2 separate regions of the Homo sapiens genome follow, and region 1 is linked to region 2. Evidence: fine-mapped expression QTL. A gene starts in region 2. The other region holds a variant in brackets. All regions are shown on one strand. Distances are between the middles of the regions. Region 1 holds the start of TAF6 (TATA-box binding protein associated factor 6). Region 2 holds the start of COPS6 (COP9 signalosome subunit 6).

The links.
Region 1: its variant is fine-mapped to the expression of COPS6 in whole blood (INTERVAL, PIP above 0.99).

Annotation. Positions count from the first base shown.
Region 1 is chr7:100,114,751-100,126,498 of GRCh38, reverse strand. TAF6 (TATA-box binding protein associated factor 6) reads left to right here and starts at 7,141. Exons shown (of 15, transcript NM_139315.3): 1 at 7,141-7,295. It overlaps CNPY4 (canopy FGF signaling regulator 4), which reads right to left and starts at 6,865. Exons shown (of 6, transcript NM_152755.2): 1 at 6,637-6,865; 2 at 4,114-4,240; 3 at 3,922-4,018; 4 at 3,593-3,715; 5 at 1,868-1,985; 6 at 991-1,774. The coding sequence starts at 6,754. The coding sequence ends at 1,611. RefSeq lists enhancers at 293-962, 6,169-6,238, 6,609-6,828, 7,039-7,188. The variant C/T (reference allele first, on the strand shown) is at 4,710.
Region 2 is chr7:100,084,634-100,092,633 of GRCh38, reverse strand. It overlaps COPS6 (COP9 signalosome subunit 6), which reads right to left and starts at 3,665. Exons shown (of 10, transcript NM_006833.5): 1 at 3,568-3,665; 2 at 3,219-3,344; 3 at 2,888-3,019; 4 at 2,147-2,235; 5 at 1,980-2,042; 6 at 1,685-1,732; 7 at 1,482-1,596; 8 at 1,304-1,396; 9 at 1,114-1,214; 10 at 447-985. The coding sequence starts at 3,643. The coding sequence ends at 845. RefSeq lists enhancers at 914-1,208, 2,068-3,267, 2,774-3,465, 4,852-5,545 and a silencer at 3,616-3,805.

The sequences.
Region 1 (11,748 bases), 32 kb before region 2:
GACAGTCTCGCCCTGTCGCCCAGGCTAGAGTGCAGGGGCACCATCATAGCTCGCCCCAGTCTTGAACCCCTGGTTCTAGCGATCCTCCTGCTTCAGCCTCCTGGAGTGCTGGGAATACAGGCGTGCACGCCCCTCTAAATTTTTTTTGGTTTTTTTTGAGACGGAGTCTTGTTCTGTCGCCCAGGCTAGAGTGCAGTGGCGTGATCTCAGCTCACTGCAACCTCCGCCTCCTGGGTTCAAGCGATTCTCCTGTCTCAGCCTCCCGAGTAACTGGGATTACAGGCGCCCACCACCATGCGTGGCTTTTTTTTTTGAGACGGAGTCTCGCTCTATCACCCAGGCTGGAGTGCAGTGGCACGATCTTGGCTCACTGCCAGCTCCGCCTCCCGGGTTCCCGCCATTCTTCTGCCTCAGCCTCCCGAGTAGCTGGGACTGCAGGCGCCTGCCACCACACCCGGCTAATTTTTTGTATTTTTAGTAGAGACGGGCTTTCACCGTATTAGCCAGGATGGTCTCGATCTCCTAATCTTGTTATCCACCCGCCTTGGCCTCCCAAAGTGCTGGGATTACAGGCGTGAGTCACCGCGCCCAGCCGCCCGGCTAATTTTTGTATTTTTGGTAGAGACGAGGTTTCTCCATGTTGGCCAGGCTGCTCTCGAACTCCTACACTCAGGTGATCCGCCTGCCTCGGCCTCCCAAAGTGCTAGGATTACAGGTGTGAGTCACTGCGCCCAGCCTCCAGGCTGGTCTTGACCTTTTGGACTCAAGTGATCCTCCCATCTCCACCTCTGCAGTAACTGGGACTACAGGCGCTGCACCACCAGCCCTGCAGTCTTCTTTGTGTGTGTGTGTGTGTGTAGAATTGGGGTTTCACTATGTTGCTCAGGCTGGAGCTTGAGCTTAACAAGACAGCGGCCATTCTGGGTGCTGCCTCATCGACCAGCTAGCTATGTGTGCCCGGCTGTTGTTTGAAACTTTGGGCCCAGCTAGTTTTTAGAAAAAAAGAAAAAAGTTTAATAGCGATATAGAAAATTGAGCACCTATAAAACTATATGGTGGGCTCTGGGTTACATTGAGCTTAAGTAGACCAAGTATCTATCCCACCTAAATTATCAGCAACTCCAGGCCATGACCCAGTGTCCCATTCTCCTTCACGGTTTGCTGGTGTGTAGCCTCCTGGATACAGGCAATGTATATAGATCGCAGAGAATGTCCGTTCTGGCCTCTTCCTTGGAAGGGTCTAAAAACAGACCTTAAGGAGCTAAGTGACTTCCCCAAAGCCCACAGCTCCAGTGCCACTGCTGACTTTTGGGTGGGGGTGGGATCAGTTAAAGAGGAAAGCTTTCAGTACTGTCAGCACATACACCTGCCAATTAAGGGGCTGGATAGAGTTCATCTCTAGGAGCAGGACCTCCACCCCCACCCTCCACCCCAGAAGCCATGTCATGCTGTTTCACCAGGATCTTGCCTGAGGTTAGATGGGAGAGAACAGCTACAAGCTTGGGTGGAGTCACTCATAAACACACCCTGAAAGCTGTGGAGCAGGGAGAGTGCAGGCTTTAGAGGGCTCTCCATGATCCCTTCCCCTCCTGGGGGCTCAAAGGCAAGGGTCAAAGATCTTCTCGGTCAAGTTTGGGGTGGCTTCCTGTCTTGGTCATCTTGTCTCCCCCTTCCTCTTCCTCCTCTTCCTCCTCCTCCTCCTGCTCTTCCTCCCCTTCTGTTTTCTCTTCCCCATCTGTGATCTCCTTTCCAGTCCAAGTTTCCTGTAGACATGCTAGATCGGATGACAGAAAACAATTTAGATATTAGTCCTGGAGGCAGGGGAGGCTATGGCTTGGCAGGAGAGGAGTTCAACCCTTACGCTTACCAGTTTCAGCAGCTGGGAGCACATGACCTTCACAGAGAAAATTTTGTAGGGGCTGCTCCTGATGGTGGAAGTACCAGTCTCCCACAATGTCTTCAAACTCCTCCAACATGGTCTCACACTGGTCAAGTAGAAGGGCCAGAAGAGTATCTGCTCTGGAGGGATTTGGGATCCCGCCTGTCTTCTCTCCCTGCTCAACCTGACTGATTTTGGAGAGGCAGGTAGCCAGGAAGCTAAGTTTGGCCTACTAGATGTGCAATCCTCATTCATTCAACAAACATTTACCAGCACCTATTCTGCCAAGTAGATTATTAAACTCTTGAGTCTCAGCTCCTTGCCTGTAAAATATGTATGGTAATTGCACCTACCACATCAGGCTGTTAAGGGTAAAATGAGGCTACAGATGCAAAGTATCTGGTCCAGAGTCTGGGACACAGTAGGTGCTCAATAAGTGATGGTGGATATCATTAGCAACCATTGTTACTTTTTTTTTTTTTTGAGATGGAGTCTCGCTCTGTCACCCAGGCTGGACTGCAGTGGTGGGATCTCAGCTCACTGCAACCTCCGCCTCCCGGGTTCAAGTGATTCTCCTGCCTCAGCTTCCTGAGTAGCTGGGACTACAGATGCATGCCACCACACCACCACGCCCGGCTAATTCTTGTATTTTTAGTAGAGACAGGGTTTCACTATGATGGCCCGGCTGGTCTTGAACCCCTGATGTCGTGATCCGCCTGTCTCGCCCTCCCAAAGTGCTGGGATTACATACGTGAGCCATCGCACCTGGCCCATTATTACTTTTTAAAAATTTTCCTTAAGGCAGGGCCCAATGGCTCATGCCTGTAATCCCAGCACTTTGGGAGGCCAAGGCGGGTGGATCACCTGAGGTCAGGAGTTCGACCAGCCTGGCCAACATGATGAAACCCCGTCTCTACTAAAATTACAAAAAATTAGCTGGGCGTGGTGGCAGGGGCCTGTAATCCCAGCTACTCGGGAGGCTGAAGCAGGAGAATGGCTTGAACCCGGGAGGCGGAGGTCGCGGTGAGCCGAGATGGTGCCGGTGCACTCCAGCCTGGGCAATAAGAGTGAAACTCCGTCTTGAAAAAAAAAATTCTTTAAAATTATTATTATTTGTAGAGAAGGGGGTCTCTTATGTTGCACAAGCTGGTCTCTAACTCTGGTCTCAAACAGTCCTTCTCCCTCAGACTCACTAAGTGCTAGCATTACAGTTGTGAGCCACTCCACCCGGCTCATTATGATTTCTTTTTTTTTGTTTTTGTTTTTGTTTTTTTTTTTAAGATGGAGTCTTGCTCTGTCGCCCTGGCTGGAGTGCAATGGTGCGATCTTGGCTCATGGCAACCTCCACCTCCTGGATTCAAGCAATTCTCTTGCCTCAGCCTCCCAAGTAGCTGGGATCACAGGCGTGCACCACCACGCCCAGCTAACTTTTGTGTTTTTATTAAAGACGGGGTTTTGCCTTGTTGGCCAGGCTGGTCTCGAACTTATGACCTCAGGTGATCCACCTGCCTCAGCCTCCCAAATTGCTGGGATTACAGGTGTGAGCCACCGCACCCCACCGCTCCTGGACCCACTTTAATCAATGGCACAGTCCTCACTCTGGCCCCTTCCCCATGCTTAGGGGTAGACATCCCCTATAGTCAAACCCTAGAACCTAGCTCCCCTCTCAGGTTCCCTTCTCACCTCCCTGGATGGTGCAGTGTCTTATCCTACCTGCTTCTTGAGGTATGTGACCTCCACGCTGGGCTCATCCCAAAGCTCCAGAGGGATCCCCAGATCCACCTTCACCCCCTTCTGCACTAGGCCTTTCAGTGTTGCCATGGTCTGACTCTGACCCTGAGAGATTAAGAATTTGGCATCAGCCCAGCTCACCACCCCACCCCTCCCTTCCCCTTTCTGCCATTTCAGTTTTGTCAACTACTGGAGATTCAAGGGTGAGTTCCATGATGGTGAGATGATGGGCAGATAACCTCTGGAGGGCCTCAGGGGATACAGATCTTTGTATCTGAGAAGTGGGGTCCTGCCCTGGGGAAGGGTCTGACCTTGGCATATCTCAGTGAGCCCTTGCGCTCAGCGTGAACACTATAGTCCAGGATCCGCTCACATAAATTCTCTAAGGCCTCTTCCAGCCTTGTCTCTCTGTGGAAAGAGAGGAAACAAAGATTCCCTGGATGCTGTAGGAACTCCCAGGGCTCCGTTGGGGGTTGGAAAGGGGAGGAGCACGAAGGACTCACGAAACGCTGTAAGGCACGTGTCTCTTCCTCTTGCCTGTATCCAGCACCTGCCCCAGCTCCAGCACCTCTCGAGATCGACCGGTGCGACTCAGTTCCGCCTGTAGCTCTGTGCTCAGCAGCTTACACACTGGTGGGGAGGAGAAACGTCCGGGGGGAGGTAAAAGACAAACACACCAGCCATTCATTCTGCAGATGACCTGAGGCAGCAGAGCATACAAGTGCAGACTATGGAGCCAGACTGGCTGGGTTGGAATCCTGGCTCAGCCATTTAGCAGCTGTGTGGCAATCTTCCTGCTTGCTGTGCCTCGGTTTCTTCATCTTTTTTTTTTTTTTTTTCAGACGGACTCTCGCTCTGTCGCCCAGGCTGTAGTGCAGTGGCGCAGTCTCGGCTCACTGCCAGCTCCGCCTCCTGGGTTCACGCCATTCTCCTGCCTCAGTCTCCCGAGTAGCTGGGACTACAGGCACCCACCACCACGCCCGGCTAATTTTTTGTATTTTTAGTAGAGACAGGGTTTCACCGTGTTAGCCAGGATGGTCTCGATCAGCTGACCTTGTGATCCGCCCGCCTTGGCCTCCCAAAGTACTGGGATTACAGG[C/T]GTGAGCCACCACGCCCGGCCGGTTTCTTCATCTTTATAATGGGATAATAGGCCAGGAGTGGTGGCTCACACCTGTAATCCCAGCACTTTGGGAGGCTGAGGCGGGCAGATCACTTGAGGAGTTCAAGACCAGCCTGGCCCACATGGTGAAACCCCATCTCTATTAAAAATACAAAAACTAGCCAGGTGTGGTGGTGCGCACCTGTAATAGCTACTCGGGAAGCTGAGGCAGGAGAATCACTCGAACCCAGGAGGTGGAGGTTGCAGTGAGCTGAGATCCCACCACTGCACCCCAGCCCAGGCAACAAAGGGAGACTCCATCTTAAAAAAAGTAAAATACATTAAAAATAAATAGGCCAGCACAGTGACTCATGCCTGTAATCCCAACACTTTGGGAGGCTGAGGTGGGTGGATCACGAGGTCAAGAGATTGAGACCATCCTGGCCAACATAGTGAAACCTTGTCTCTACTAAAAATACAAAAATTAGCTGGGCATGGTGGCGGGCGCCTGTAATCCCAGCTACTTGGGAGGCTGAGGCAGGAGAATCGCTTGAACCCGGGAGGCGGAGGTTGCAGTGAGCGAGATTGCACCACTGCACTCCAGCCTGGGCAACGGCATGAGACGCTGTCTGAAAAGAGAAAAAAAAAAAAAAAAAAAAAAAAAAAAAAAAAATATATATATATATATATATATATATAAAATTAATACAATTGGATAATAATAGTATGTCCCTCATAGGAGTGTGATGAAGATTAAATAAATCAACATATATAAAGGCTGGCACATAGTGAGCACTGTATAAGTATTCACTGTTATCCTGCAGTTATTTATTGAGCTCCTTCTGTATGCATACTAACAATATAGACAGCAATAAGACCTATTATCTCTATCTACAGGTCTCTGTCAGTGTAGTTGGGACAGATAAACCAAGGATGACAAGCTGTGGTGAAGCTGGGCCTGAACTCATGGGCTCAAGTGATCCTCCCACCTTGGCCTTCCAAAGTGCTGGGATTACAGATGTGAGCCACTGTGCCCAGGCCCGTTGGCTGTATTCTGATAGAAGGCCTGCAGAGGTGTTAAAGCAAGGACTGATACAATTAGGTGATTAAGTCTGTTTAAAAAGATTGACAGGTCAGGGGAGAAGAGCGGCACACGGAGGTGAAAGGAGACAGAGATGAGGACCAAGTCATGAGACTGTCATGACTGCCTTTCATGATACTGGAATACAGTTGAGGGGGTGAAGCGAAGAGAAAAGGAATCCAGGGAAGAAACGTAAAGTCAGGAGGGCAGCAAACTAGGGCATCAGGGCCAGCCCCCTTTCTCAACTGGGCCCCACGCTAGTGCAGCTATGGAAGGCGCTGCTTGCTGAAAAATCCATATAGTACGCACCGTCTGCAAAGTCTCACCGGATGGGGACACTCTCCTAGTTGTGTGGCTTCCTTTTGTTTATGAGCTTCAAAGGCTGAATTACTCACCCTCAAACCCCCTCAGCGGGGTGTGGGGCCTGTAATTTGGGAGCGTCTATGCTAGGGTAGGGCAGCGGATGTCCACAAGGCCTGAGCCTCACACCCGGCTCCTGCAGCCTCTGCAGATTAAGGTCTGGTGACATGAGGTAAACACTCACTGAAGATGCTCTAAAAGTTGGCAGTCCCGGGCCGATGGTCCCTGAACTACAATTCCCACAATCCATTGGCGGGCGGGGGGTTCCAAGCCAGCCAAAAAAATGCAGGCTCTCTCTGGATGCAGTTTGAGGTGGCACTACACGTTCGCTTCCTTGACCCCATCCAAATTCAGCCAAGCTCCACCAGAACCTCCCTCAAGCCTTCAAGGAGGTCGGGTGACCCACCCAATACAGGCTAGGATGTCCGGCCTAGAAGAAGGAGGTGTGGCCGGGCGATGCCTATAGGGGCTACCCCCTTCAAATACCTTCGCATTTGCTGGGCAAGCGTTCTGTGTCATCGTCCTCCTCCTTCAACATCCCAGCCCAAGCCTCGTGCACGGCCAAAAAAAGGAAAAGCAATATTCCCAACCGCACAGGTCCCATGACAAAGCGCCGTCTACAAACAATCACCGCTTGCCTTCAACTTCGGGAAGGTAGTGTGGGTCCCTTAAATTCCCAGGCGGCTAGCGGCAACCTTAAATCCAGCCGAGGAAGGTCGGCGCATGCGCAGGATCAGCCCAACAAGGGTGGGGCCTCGTTGCTACGGGTTTCCCTGCCTCCGTTTTGTGGCGCCTCTTGAAGGTCCTGGCAGCCGGGTAGTGAAGGAATAAATTGCAGTAATTACACCAAGAGGGAGTGCTCCTTATATATAGATGTAGAAACAAACTTTTAAAATATAATTTCATTCTGCGAGCCTAGAGGACTTATTCTGGTACGGGGAAGGGGCAGTGACTTGCTCTTAGGCTCTGCCAGGACCTGCTCCCACGAGGGGGCGGGGCCAAGATGGCGCCGAGCGCCGGGTGAGCAGCGTCTCGGCTGCCGCTAGAGTTTTCCTGCTCCCCGCGCTCGGGTGGCGGGGGCGGGTCTGAGTGGTACCCCGGAGGAGACCCTTTGAAGGTCCCTTGTGGGGACTGGAAAGAGGACGGTTGGTTGTGTGTCTGTGCTCGTGGGGACCCCGTGTGTGTGCCTGCATTGGAGAGATGTTGCAGGAGATGGGGTGGGCTCTCTGAACCTCCTTTCGCGCTGCCCGGGGATCTTCGACCTGCTTCTCTGCTGGGATCTCGCTTAAGTTAACCCTTCCCTGGGACGCCTTCCTGCCGCCTCCACTGATCTGAGGAGATCCTGTGACTGTAGCGTGTTTTATGAGCCTTTACTGGCAGAGGGTACCGCCGGGTATTGAAGGATTCGTAGGAGTTCGCCAGGGAAGTGGGACACGACCCCCTCTTGTAAACCCGGCGCCAGGCACAGAGTATGTCTCGAATAGTTGTGTTCCCTATAGATAAGACTTATAAAAGTCGGGGAGGAGATCAGGGATGGTTTGAAAAGAACCAATTTGTTTTTCGGCCTCCCTCTTCCCATCCTTCCAGCACGGCCCCACCCTACCTGTACTACTCCTAAGCAGTATTGATATGTTAATCTTCCTAATGTCCAACTGCAAGTGTGCCACTTTAATTTTTTTTTGTTTTTTTTTTGAGACAGGGTTTCCGTCTGTTACCCAGGCTGTTGTGCAGTGGCACCATCTTGGCTCACTGCAGCCTCCAACTCCTCAGTTCAAGCGATCCTCCTGCCTCAGCCTCCTAAGTAGCTGGGATGACAGGTTCACACCACCAGGTCCGTCTAATTTTTTAATTTTTGCAGAAATGGGGGTCTCACTATGTTGACCAGGCTGTCTCAAACTCCTGGCCTCAAACAATCCCCCCACCTCTGCCTTCCAAAGTGCTGGGATTACTGGGGTGAGTTACCTCTCTTGGCTCCAATTTGCTTTTTTTTTTTTTTTGAGATGGAGTCTCTCTCTATCGCCCAGGCTGGAGTGCAGTGGCACGATCTCGGTTCACTGCAACCTCCGCTTCCTGGTTCAAGCGGTTCTCCCACCTCAGCCTCCCAGATAGCTGGGACTACAGGCGCCCGCCACCATGTCTGGTTAATTTTTGTGTTTTTACAAAAAGACAGGGTTTCACCATGTTGGCCAGGGTGGTCTCGAACTCCTAACCTCAGGTGATCTTCCCGCCTTGGCCTCCCAAATTACAGGCGTGAGCCACTGCACCTGGCTCCACTTTGCTTTTTTTGTTTTTTTTTTTTTTTTGAGACAGAGTCTGGCTCTGTTGCCCAGGCTGGAGTGCAGTGGTGCGATCTCGGCTCACTGCAAGCTCCGCCTCCCGGGCTCACGCCATTCTCCTGCCTCAGCAGCCTCCCGAGTAGCAGGGACTATAGGTGCCTGCCACCATGCCTGGCTAATTTTTTCTATTTTTTAGTAGAGACGAGGTTTCACCTTGTTAGCCAGGATGGTCTCAATCTCCTGACCTAGTGATCCGCCCGCCTCGGCCTCCCAAAGTGCTGGGATTACAGGCGTGAGCCACCACGGCCGGCCCAGTTTGCTTTTAACTACAGTGTAGGCTCAAAGCTTGGGCCTATGACCTATTAATAATAGTGATACCAAGTATTTACTGAGCACCAATATCTCTAAGCCTTACAACTAATTCATTTACTTCACAAATATTTATGATGTCCCAGGCTGGGCTCCTGGAATACATCAGTGAACATAATAAAGAGCTCTGTCGGCCGGGCACAGTGGCTCACGCCTGTAATCCCAGCACTTTGGGAGGCCAGGGTGGGTGGAACACCTGAGGTCAGGAGTTCAAGACCAGCCTGAGCAACATGGTGAAACCCCATCTCTACTAAAAATACAAAAATTAGCCAGGTGTGGTGGCGCATGCCTGTAATCCCAGCTACGCAGGAGGCTGAGACAGGAGAATTGCTTGAATCTGGGAGGCGGAGGTTGCAGTGAGCCAAGATCGCGCCATTGCTCTCCAGCCTGGACAACAAGAGTGAAACTCTAGCTCAAAAAAAAAAAAAAAAAAAAAGAGCCCTGTCTAGATGGTGGACGGAGACGGGGTCTCACTCTGTTGCCAGGCTGGAGTGCAGTGGCACAACCTCTACTCACTGCAACCTCCACCTCCTGGGTTCAAGCAATTCTCCTGCCTCAGCCTCCCGAGTATCTGGGACTACAGGTGCACATCACCACGCCCAGCTAATTTTTGTATTTTTAGTAGAGATGGGGTTTAACCATGTTGGCCAGGATGGTCTCGATCTCTTGACCTCGTGATCTGCCCACCTCGGCCTCCCAAAGTGTTGGGATTACAGGCGTGAGCCACTGCGCCATGCCCAAAAGATGTTAAATGCTATGGAAAAGAAAAAGTGGGCTGCCCCCACTCTGAGGGCAGAGTGCAGAGTTAAATAGGGTGGTCAGGGTAGGCAGCCAATTAGATATTTGGGAAGAACATTCCAGGCAGAGGGAATGCAGCAAAGGCTATTAAGCAAGTACATACCTGGCAAGTTTAAGGAGCAGCCAGAAGGAATGTATGTGTCTGGATCAAAGTGGAAGAAGGAAGGGCGTTCAGAGATATAATGGGGAGAAGGTAATTTTGAAGGGCTTTGTAGGACATTATAAGGATTTCGTCTGTTTTTTTTGTTGTTGTTGTTGTTGTTTTTGAGAAGAAGTCTTGCTTTGTTGCCCAGGCTGGAGTGCAATGACACAGATCTTTGCTCACTGCAACCTCCGCCTCCCGGGTTCGAGTGATTCTTCTGCCTCAGCCTCCCGAGTAGCTGTGATTACAGGTGCCCGCCACCATGCCCATCTAATTTTTTTATTTTTAGTAGAGATAGGGTTTCACCATGTTGGCCAGGCTGGTCTTGAACTCCTGCCCTCAAGTGATCCGCCCACCTTCGTCTCCCAAAGTGCTAGGATTACAGGCGTGAGCCACTGTGCCTGGCCTGAGATGGGGTTTTGCTATGTTGCCCAGGGTGGTCAGGAATTCCTAAGCCCAAGCAGTCTTCCCACCTCACCCTCCCAAAGTGCACAGATTACAGGCATGAGCTGAGCCACTGCACCTGCCCATTATAAGGATTTCAGGTTTTACTTTATGGCAAGTGGAGAGCCATTATGAGGGTTTGAGCAAAGAAATGACAATCTGCTTTACAGTTTGACAGAAGCATTTTGGCTGCAACGTTAGGAATAGATGTAGAGAAAGGCAAGGGTAGACTCCGGTTGACATTGTTAGGAGGTTTTTGGAGTTACCCAGTGGATAGATGATGGTGACCTGGGCCAAGCAGTGGGAGCAGAGGAGTCAGGTTGGACTACCTGGTGGATTGATTGATTTTTGAGACAGAGTCTCGCTCTGTCGCCAGGCTGGAGTCCAGTGGCACGATCTTGGCTCACTGCAACCTCCACTTCCCAGGTTCAAGTGATTCTCTTGCCTCAGCCTCCCGAGTAGCTGGGACTACAGGTGCGTGCCACCACGCCAAGCTAGTTTTTGTATTTTTAGTAGAGATGGGATTTCACCATGTTGGCCAGGATGGTCTCCATCTCTTGACCTGGTGATCCGTCCGCCTCGGCCTCCCAAAGTGCTGGGATTACAGGTGTGAGCCAACGCGCCCGACCGGATTTATTTTTTTACCTTTTTTTTTTTTTTGAGACAGAGTCCATCTGTCACTGAGGCTGGAGTGCAATGGCGCAATCTCAACTCACTGCAAACTCTACTGCCGAGGCTCAAGTGATTCTCCTGCCTCAGCCTCCCAAGTAGCTGGGATTACAGGCACGCGCCACCATGCCCAGCTAATTTTTGTATTTTTAGTAGAGAAAGGGTTTTACCATGTTGCTCAGGCTGGTCTCGAACTCCTGACCTGAAGTGATCCACCCACCTTGGCCTCCCAAATTGCTGGAATTACAGACGTGAGCCACCGCACCTGGCCTACCTGGTGGATTTGATGTGAAGGCTCAGATAAAGAACAAGTGTCTGGATGGATGGCATTGCTATGAAGATAAGGAAAGCTGAGCCTGGGCCAGACACTTCGGCTCACGCCTTTAATTCCAACACTTTGAGAGGCCAACGCTGGAGGATTGCTTGAGCCCAAAACTTCAAAGTGGTGGGATTGAAGCCCTGAGGTGTAACAGAAAAAGATAAAAATCTGGGCTGGGCCTGGTGGCTCAGGCCTGTAATTCCAACACTTTGGGAGGCCGAAGCAGGAGGACTGCGTGAGCCCAGCAGTTCAAGACCAGCCTGGACAACATAGTGAGACTCTGTCTCTGCCCCTGCCCCTGCAAAAAATTGGCTGTGTGTAGTGGTACACACCTATAGTCCCAGCTACTTGGGAGGCTGAGGTGTGAGGATTGCTTGAGCCTAGGAGCTCCTGGGCTCTATCAGTTTTCCCACCTCTGCCTCCTGAGTAGCTAGAACAACAGCCCTGTGCCTGCATACCCAGCTAATTTTTGTATTTTTTGTACAGATGGGGTCTCACTGTGTTGTCCAGGCTGGTCGTGAACTGCTGGGCTCAAGCGATCCTCCTACCTTGGGCTCCCAGAGTGTTGGAATTACAGGCAT
Region 2 (8,000 bases):
TGCGGCAAGGACTAAGCGGTCCCTGCTGTTTGGAGATACTTAAGATGGGGCTCCACTTTTTGAGCCCCCCGACTCCCTTATTTGGTCTTATACTGCCTGTGTGCAAGTCAGGCTCTGGGGATATGGCGCCAGTATGAAATGCAGGGTCTCTTGGTTTTTCCCCTTTTCTAGCAGACAGGTCATTACTTAGTTCCCAACTCCCACTCTAAAGCTCTGGTTAGCGGGTGATGAAAATCAGCACAAGTGATCACATACAGCAATCCCAACCTTTAGACCACTTCCTAGCTGCCTCTCCAAAATATGTAGTAAACGGTCATTGAGAAACTCTCCCTCCTGGTAATTCACAGTGCCCACAGGATCAAGGCTTGGACTTCTTTCTAATAAAAATCTGCTTACTATCCCTTCTTTTTTGCGTATGTGAAAAACAAGTTAATTTAGCTCAGGAAAGTAGTCAATTATCATGTTTATAAGGTTGGGTGGGCTAGGTAAGATGATGTAGAGGGTGACATTAAAGTGTAGAACAGAGACCACTTAGGTGGAAGCAGGCAGCCTTGGACTTTGCTAAAGACCAGTCCATGTGACTGACATGGGGTCACTTCAAATGGTAGTGCCTCCCTCACTGAAGAGCATCAGAAGGGCTTCTGAGCAAGGCCAGAATGAGCCTCGATGAACATCCAAGTTGACCAACCAGTGTGGTGCCTAACAGAGGACAGAGCCACCAGCAGGGGTGCTCAGGGGCTGCTCCCCTTTTATTAATGACAGCGGTTTCTCTCAAGGAAGTGTAGTGCCCTCCCCTTTGGGATAGTTGCCTGACCCCTGTCCATCAGCCCTTCAAGTACCCTCATCAGAAAAAGAGCCCGCGCATTCTCCTGCCGATGCCTTGTCGGTCGTAGAGGACATTGAACTTGTTCACAAACTGGTTCATGGTGTTGCACGTTTTGGTGATGGTGCCGAGGTAGGCCATGAGCCCCACGTCGTTGCATTGCTGGGAGGGAACAGAAAGGACCAGTTCCTCGGGATCCCTCGTGGCATGCCCGGGGAACAACAGTCCCCAGTCCTGCACGTGAAAGTGACAGCATAAGCCCCGCCTCCCCATCCGGGTTTTACACTCACATCATAAAAATCTGTCTTGAACTTGTCTGTGCTGAGCACCGGGAGACAGTGACACAGAGCATAGGCCTCCCGCAGGATCTCATGATTAAAGGGGACCTCTCCTAAAGGCACAAAAAGAGACTACATTAGTTTGGATGCTGTCACTTCCCCAGGAGGGAGAGGAAGAATGCCAGGGAAGCCCCTGTCCTACCCGCTTCAGAGGCCTTGACGTACTCCAAGATGAGCTTGACGCGGCTGTGCAGCATCTTGATGGCGCTGTGCTGTGCTATCAGGTGTTCAGCCACTGCAAGGGGATGAGGACAGGAGGAGGTTGAGACGGGATGTGGCCACACCTTCCAACCCCACTTCCAAGGAATCCCCTCCATTACCAGTGGAGTTCTCTCCACTGCCTGTTGCTGTCATTCGGGCTACGTGGTCTACACCAATGCGTTCCGCTTCCTCTGTGGCCAGAGTGTAGGTCAGCTCAGCAAACAGCATTGTGGCCTACAGGGCAAGGTAACCCACAAAGGGAGAATCAAAAGCAGGAAAGAGGCCAAGAGCAGGATCTGAGGGTTGAAGGGTAGGGTATTACCTCTCCATTGATTATATCAATGACAGACTCAAAAACGCTGACAGGAAGCTGTGAAGGAGACGGAGAAACCTGAACACTATATGCCAACATTTGGGCTAGCTGCTTTTACACATTTCCTCTCATCTTCCCAAGAAACCAATGAAGTAGGGATTACCTCCTTTCACAGTTTGGAGATTAAATGACTAAGCCAGAGTCACAGCTGGTAAGTGGCATCTGGCATTCCCCAATAGAGGAGTGTCACACAGTAAAAGGTATAGCGACAATCATGACAGAGTAGGCATGGAGTATTACTCACATCTGTGTGCTTGGTCATAGGGTTCAACTTCAGAAAGAGGGGGCTCTCGATGATCTCACACACCTGGAAGAGAGGGACAATGCACAGGAAGTCAGTGCCCCCTACCTTTCTCCTTCCCCTCATTCTCCATTCTCTGCCCCAGCATGCACAGGTGTGAGCATGCATACCTGCTTATGGACGTGGATGTCCGAGGGGTCAGGTGGCCCCCCTGTGGTATACCAACCCAGAAACTCCAGCTCCTTGAACACCTGTTTAACTAGAGGGGAAGGGGCCAGAACATATAGTAATTCTTTTTTTTTTTTTTTCTGAGACGGAATCTCGCTCTGTTGCCCAGGCTGGAGTGCAGTGGCATGATCTCAGCTCACCACAACCTCCGCCTCCCAGGTTCAAGCAATTCTCCTGCCTCAGCATCCCGCGTAGCTGGGACTACAGGCACGCACCACCATGCCAGACTAATTTTTGTATTTTTAGTAGAGGTGGGGTTTCACTATGTTTGCCAGGCTGGTCTTGAACTCCTGACCTCATGATCCACCCACCTCGGCCTCCCAAAGTGCTGGGATTAGAGGCATGAGTCACTGAGCCCGGCCTGACATAGTAATTCTTTAAACCATCCTTCCTCAATGTGAAGCTCCTGGTGTATTTTCACCAGCTTCTCTCCTCCCTCCTCAAATCCTGGCTCAGTTTAGAATAACTACTCCCTTCTATCCTGTCTCCTCTCATCCTTTGCTTTCTTTTGAGAAAGAACTCTGAACGTTTTCTTTTTCTGAGATCTCTCCAGCTACTCTTCACTTTTTCTCCCCTGTTCTTGGTCTCCTCTCCTGTTTCTTTCCAACCCTCTCCATCTTCCCCACCCTGTACATTTTTTTTTTAACTCCCACTCCTCTTCCCCACATCTATTCCACTCTCACACTGCTCCTCCTTGGTGTAATAATATTCCTTGTCAATGATAATCTTCTCTTCCACGGTGTGGGACAGCAGCTCAAAGGAGTTCATCACCTCGATATTTCGGCCCTCCTGCTTGCCAATCAGAGCCCCAATCACTGGGAAAGAGAATGACATGGAAAAGGTGAGGGTAAAGAAACTTCTATGACCTGAGGGTCTGAGATCAGTGGGAACCATGTATTGGGGAAACGATGATTTGGGGGAGGGGGAATTGGCTCCAGTAGAGGAAGGGGAAAAGACCACTGCCTGGGGGAGGTGAGCAAGGAGAAGAGACTGGAGTCTATGCCCAACACTCACCCTGCACAGGCCGCCCCTCCTGGGAGCGCATGCGGATCCAGTGGTCTGAGATGTTGAGAATGACAAGGGGATGGAGAGCGACGGAAACACTCCCAGTCACTCCGCAGGCCATCACGCTGGGGACTACTAAGGGTGGAGGGAAAGGAGAGAGGGTGAGAGTCCGGGCCCCACGTTCTTCCCTGGAGATGGCAGTGGGGGACGGCGGAGCCCGGGCCACACTTTCCTCCCGTAACTTATCCCAGGGAAAGATGTTGCTGCTCCGCCCTCCTCCCTTCTCCCGGGAGCACAGGGAGGCCTCAACGAACCCCTGAAGGAGGTCTCCGGAAGCCACCCCCGCACGGCCCGTTACCTGCTGCATCCACCTCCATCCCGCTGCTTCCTCCGGTCCCGTTCGTAGCTGCAGCCGCCGCCGCCGCCGCCGCCATTTTCCCCGCGCCCGCCAGCCTCGGCCCCGCCCCCTTCCTTCCCGGCTTCCGTAAGGCGAGCGGCGCATGTTCGGTGTCCCCGCGGCGTGCGGCGGGCCTGGCGTCCGGGGAGCAGGCAGTTCCCGGGTCGCGGCGGGCGGCACTCGGTGCGGGGACGCCCGACGCCCTCTGGGCCTCGGTGCCTAGCGGGTTTTCCCAGACCCTGTCCCCGCCTGTCGCCTGCGGGTGACCTTTGACAAATTAACGACTTGATCGTCCTCGTCTGTGAAATTGGGATAAGAACGCCTAGTTCTTAAGGCTGTTGCAGAAGGAATGACATGTCGTGTTATTTCCCTCACAATAAAATCCAAACAACTAACCACAACCTGCAAGGCCCTGCCTGATCTGGCCCCGGCCTGGCCTCTTCTAGCCCTTGATCTTCAGGCTTCAGCTGCACTGGCCCTCATGTCTGGTGGTGGTGGTGGTTTGTTTTGTTTTGTTTGAGACAGGGTCTCGCTCTGTCGCCCAGGCTGGAGTGCAGTGGCCTGATGTCAGCTCACTGCACCCTCAAACTCCTGGGCTCAAGTGATCCTCCCAGTTCAGCCTCCCGAGTAGCTGGGACTACAGGCGCACCCCACCGCACCCAGCTAATTTTATTATTTGTTTTTATTTTGATAGAGACGGGGGTCTCACTAGGTTGTCCAGGCTGGTCTCCAACTCCCGGGCAGAAGAGATCCTCCATCCTCAGCCTCCCAAAGCACTGGGATTACAGGCATGAGCCACCGCACCCAGCTCTCCGTGTGTTTTTCACATGCTTTAGTTTCCCATTCAAAAGCCTGTGGTTCCTTCTCTTGTTCATCATGGTATCCCCTGTGACCAACACGGTGCCTGACACATTGGAGCCTAGATACTTTTTGAGTGAATGAAGGAATAATTAGGGGTGGAATCTGGTGTTGAGTTAGTTGCTCCATCTTGTGAAAGTTGCAGATACCAGGACAAAATCACATTGTCAGGTCCAAACAAATTGGAGCCATGAGAACACCAAGGAGAAGGTCTCATGCTTGCATGTCTGAGATAGGAATTATCTCAAGGACTTTCGAAAATAACCCCACAAGGCCAGGCATGGTGGCTCACACCTGTAATACCAGCATTTTGGGAGACCGAGGCCAGACAATCACTTGAGGTCAGCAGTTTGAGACGAGCCTAGCCAACATGGTGAAACCCCATCTCTACTAAAAATACAAAAATTAGCCAGGCGTGGTGGCAGGCGCCTGTAATCCCAGCTACTCAGGAGCCTGAGGCAGGAGAATTGCTTGAACCCGGGAGGTGGAAGCTGCAGTGAGCTGCGATCGCGCCACTGCACTCCAGCCCGGGCAAGACAAAGTGAGACTCCATCTCAAAAAAAAAAAAAAAAGAAAGAAAGAAAGAAAGAAAGAAGATAACTCCACAAGGCCAGGCATGGTGACTCACGCCTGTAATCCTAGCACTTTGGGAGGCCAAGGTTGGAGGATCACTTGAACCCAGGAGTTTGAGACCAGCCTTGGCAACATGGTGACACCTTGTTTCAACAAAACATGGAAACAAAATTCGCTGGGTATGGTAGAGGCATGCCGAGGAAATTTATGCTTGGGAAGTGAGTCAAAACTCCCTTCCTTTTTGTTCCCAGATAGCTGTAATTCCACAACCCTGTGTCATAGCCTCATACATAAGCCAGGCTCCTACAATGGCAAAAGGCATATACCTCCCCAGATGGTCTTCCTCACAAATTGCTTGCCAGGAAATTCCTCATTAGCCTCTGAATCTTTCAGCATAAACATTCCCCCTATAAACCAGCCCTAATCCGAGTTCTGTGAAATCTCATACTGACAATGTTGATTACAAGCTTATCTTCCCAATTATAGAACAAGGAAGAGACCAGGAATCATCCCTCCACCTATCCTGAGACAGATGCATAACTGACTTTTTCCTCCACTCCCTCTTTTCAAATGTTTATTGTATCTTACATAAAATGTAGATTTACTGAACACTAATGAGAAACTCACAAAAAAGTAACAATGTGCAGCAGGGTGTGCAGTGGCTCATGCCTGTAATCGCAGCACTTTGGGAAGCGAGTGGATCACTTGAGGCCAGGAGTTCAAGACCAGCCTGGCCAACATGGCAAAACCCCATCTTTACTAAAAATACAAAAATTAGCTGGGTGTGGTGGTGCCCACCTGTAATCTCAGCTACTTGGGAGGCTGAGGCAGGAGAATCACTTGAGCCTAGGAGGTGGAGATTGCAGTGAGCCGAGATGGACCCACTGGACTCCAGCCTGGGCAACAGATTGAGACTCTATTTCAAAAAATAAAATAAAATAACCATTTGCTGGACTGGGTGCAGTGGCTCACGCCTGTAATCCCAGCACTTTGGGAGGCCGAGGCAGGCAGATCACAAGGTCAAGAGATTGAGACTATCCTGGCTAACACTGTGAAACCCCGTCTCTACTAAAAATACAAAATATTAGCTGGGCATGGTGACACGCACCTGTAGTACCAGCTACTTGGGAGGCTGAGGCACAAGAATCGCTTGAACCTGGGAGGCAGCGGTTGCAGTGAGCCGAGATTGCGCCACTGCACTCCAGCCTGCTGACAGAGCGAGACACTGTCTTAAGAAAAACAAAACAAAACAAAACAAAAAACATTTGCCTCACTGCCTCTCCTTCTTCCTTATTTTCCTCTTGCATGCTTTCTTCCCTTAAATACTGAGTTCCTGGCCAGGCACAGTGGCTTATGCTTGTAATCTCAGCACTTTGGGAGGCCGAGGTGGGTGAATCACCTGAAGTCAGGAGTTCAAGACCAGCCTGGTCTCGACCAGTAGAGATGGTGAAACCCCATCTCTACTAAAAATACAAAAATTAGCCAGGCGTGGTGGTGCATGCCTGTAATCCCAGCTACTCGAGAGGCTGAGGGAGGAGAATCACTTGAACCCGGGAGGCGGAGGTTGCAGCGAGCCGAGATCACACCACCACACTCCAGCCTGGTTGACAAAGCAAGACTCTGTCTCATAAAAAAACCCAAAATTCACATCTGGCTAGCCTAGGCTGCTCCACCCCCTCCTTACCCCTAAACCTAAGCAAGTTGCACACACTGCTCCTCCTGCCACCCCTACAAAGAGGGGTACAGACACCTAGAAAGAGCCAGACATACTCTGGCTCTAGGTGTCTGTATCCCCACCCAAAGTGTAAGCTCCTAGAAAGCAGGTGAAGAACTGTGTTATGACCCTGAACAGCCCCATATGGTGATAGTTGTAATTTACAGGGGAATTATGCAATCTCTCCGTTTAGGAGCCTGGATGAAGGAAACTTGAAGGGGCCAGCAACCCTCAATGGAACGGACTTGAGAAATCCTGCAGGAAGAGGGGTCTTCTCGCCAAAGGGAAGTTAAAAAGGAATTTATTTTATTCTAGTCCCCAGTGATAAACCAACCAGGTCTGGACAAACTGAGAGGGTTGTCAAAGAAAAGTACCTAATGCCTTGTTTCTATTTGGAAAAACCAGGTCAGAAAAATGTATCTCTTTGGTGAGATGTTGGCTCACTGCAACCTCCACCTCCTGGGTTCAAGTGATTCTTGTGCCTCAGCCTCCCAAGTAGCTGAGATATCAGGCTTGCGCCACCACACCTGGCTCATTTTTGTATTTTTAGTAGAGATGGGTTTTCAGCATGTTGGCTAGTCAGTTCTCAGACTCCTGGCCTCAACCGATCCACCTGCCTCGGCCTCCTAAAGTGCTAGGATTACAGGTGTGAGCCACCGTGCCTGGCCAGAAAAATGTCTCTCTTTAAAGAATGCTAGGCAGCTTCCAAGGAGCATAGTGCTTCTCAGCTAGATAGAAGGCTAAAATAAAAACAAGATGAGAATTATTCTAGGGTTAGTAAAGTTGATCGTTTGCACTGCTCTCTCACACATTAAAGAACTCCTTTGCCTTGTTGTTTCAGGTGCTTTTGAAACATTGTTCAGATAATTATACAGCTCATAAAACAAGAGATTATTGTGGAATTTAAGGATGACTTTGACATTGAATCAGTTGATTGTGCGCATTTTAGAACTAAGTTTGCTAAACGTTTCTTTTTTTTTGTTTTTGTTTTGTTTTGTGTTTGTTATTGTTGTTTTTGAGACAGAGTCTTGCTCTGTCACCCAGGCTGGAGTGCAGTGTTACAATCACAATTCAGTGCAGCCTCAACCTCCTGAACTCAAGTGACTGTCCCATCTCAGCCTCCCAAGTAGCTGGGACTGCAAATGCGTGCCACCACGCCAGGCTAAATTTTGTATTTTTTGTAGAGATAGAGTTTCGCCATATTTGTTTGTCTCAAAACAAACAAACAAACAAACCAAAAAAATATCCC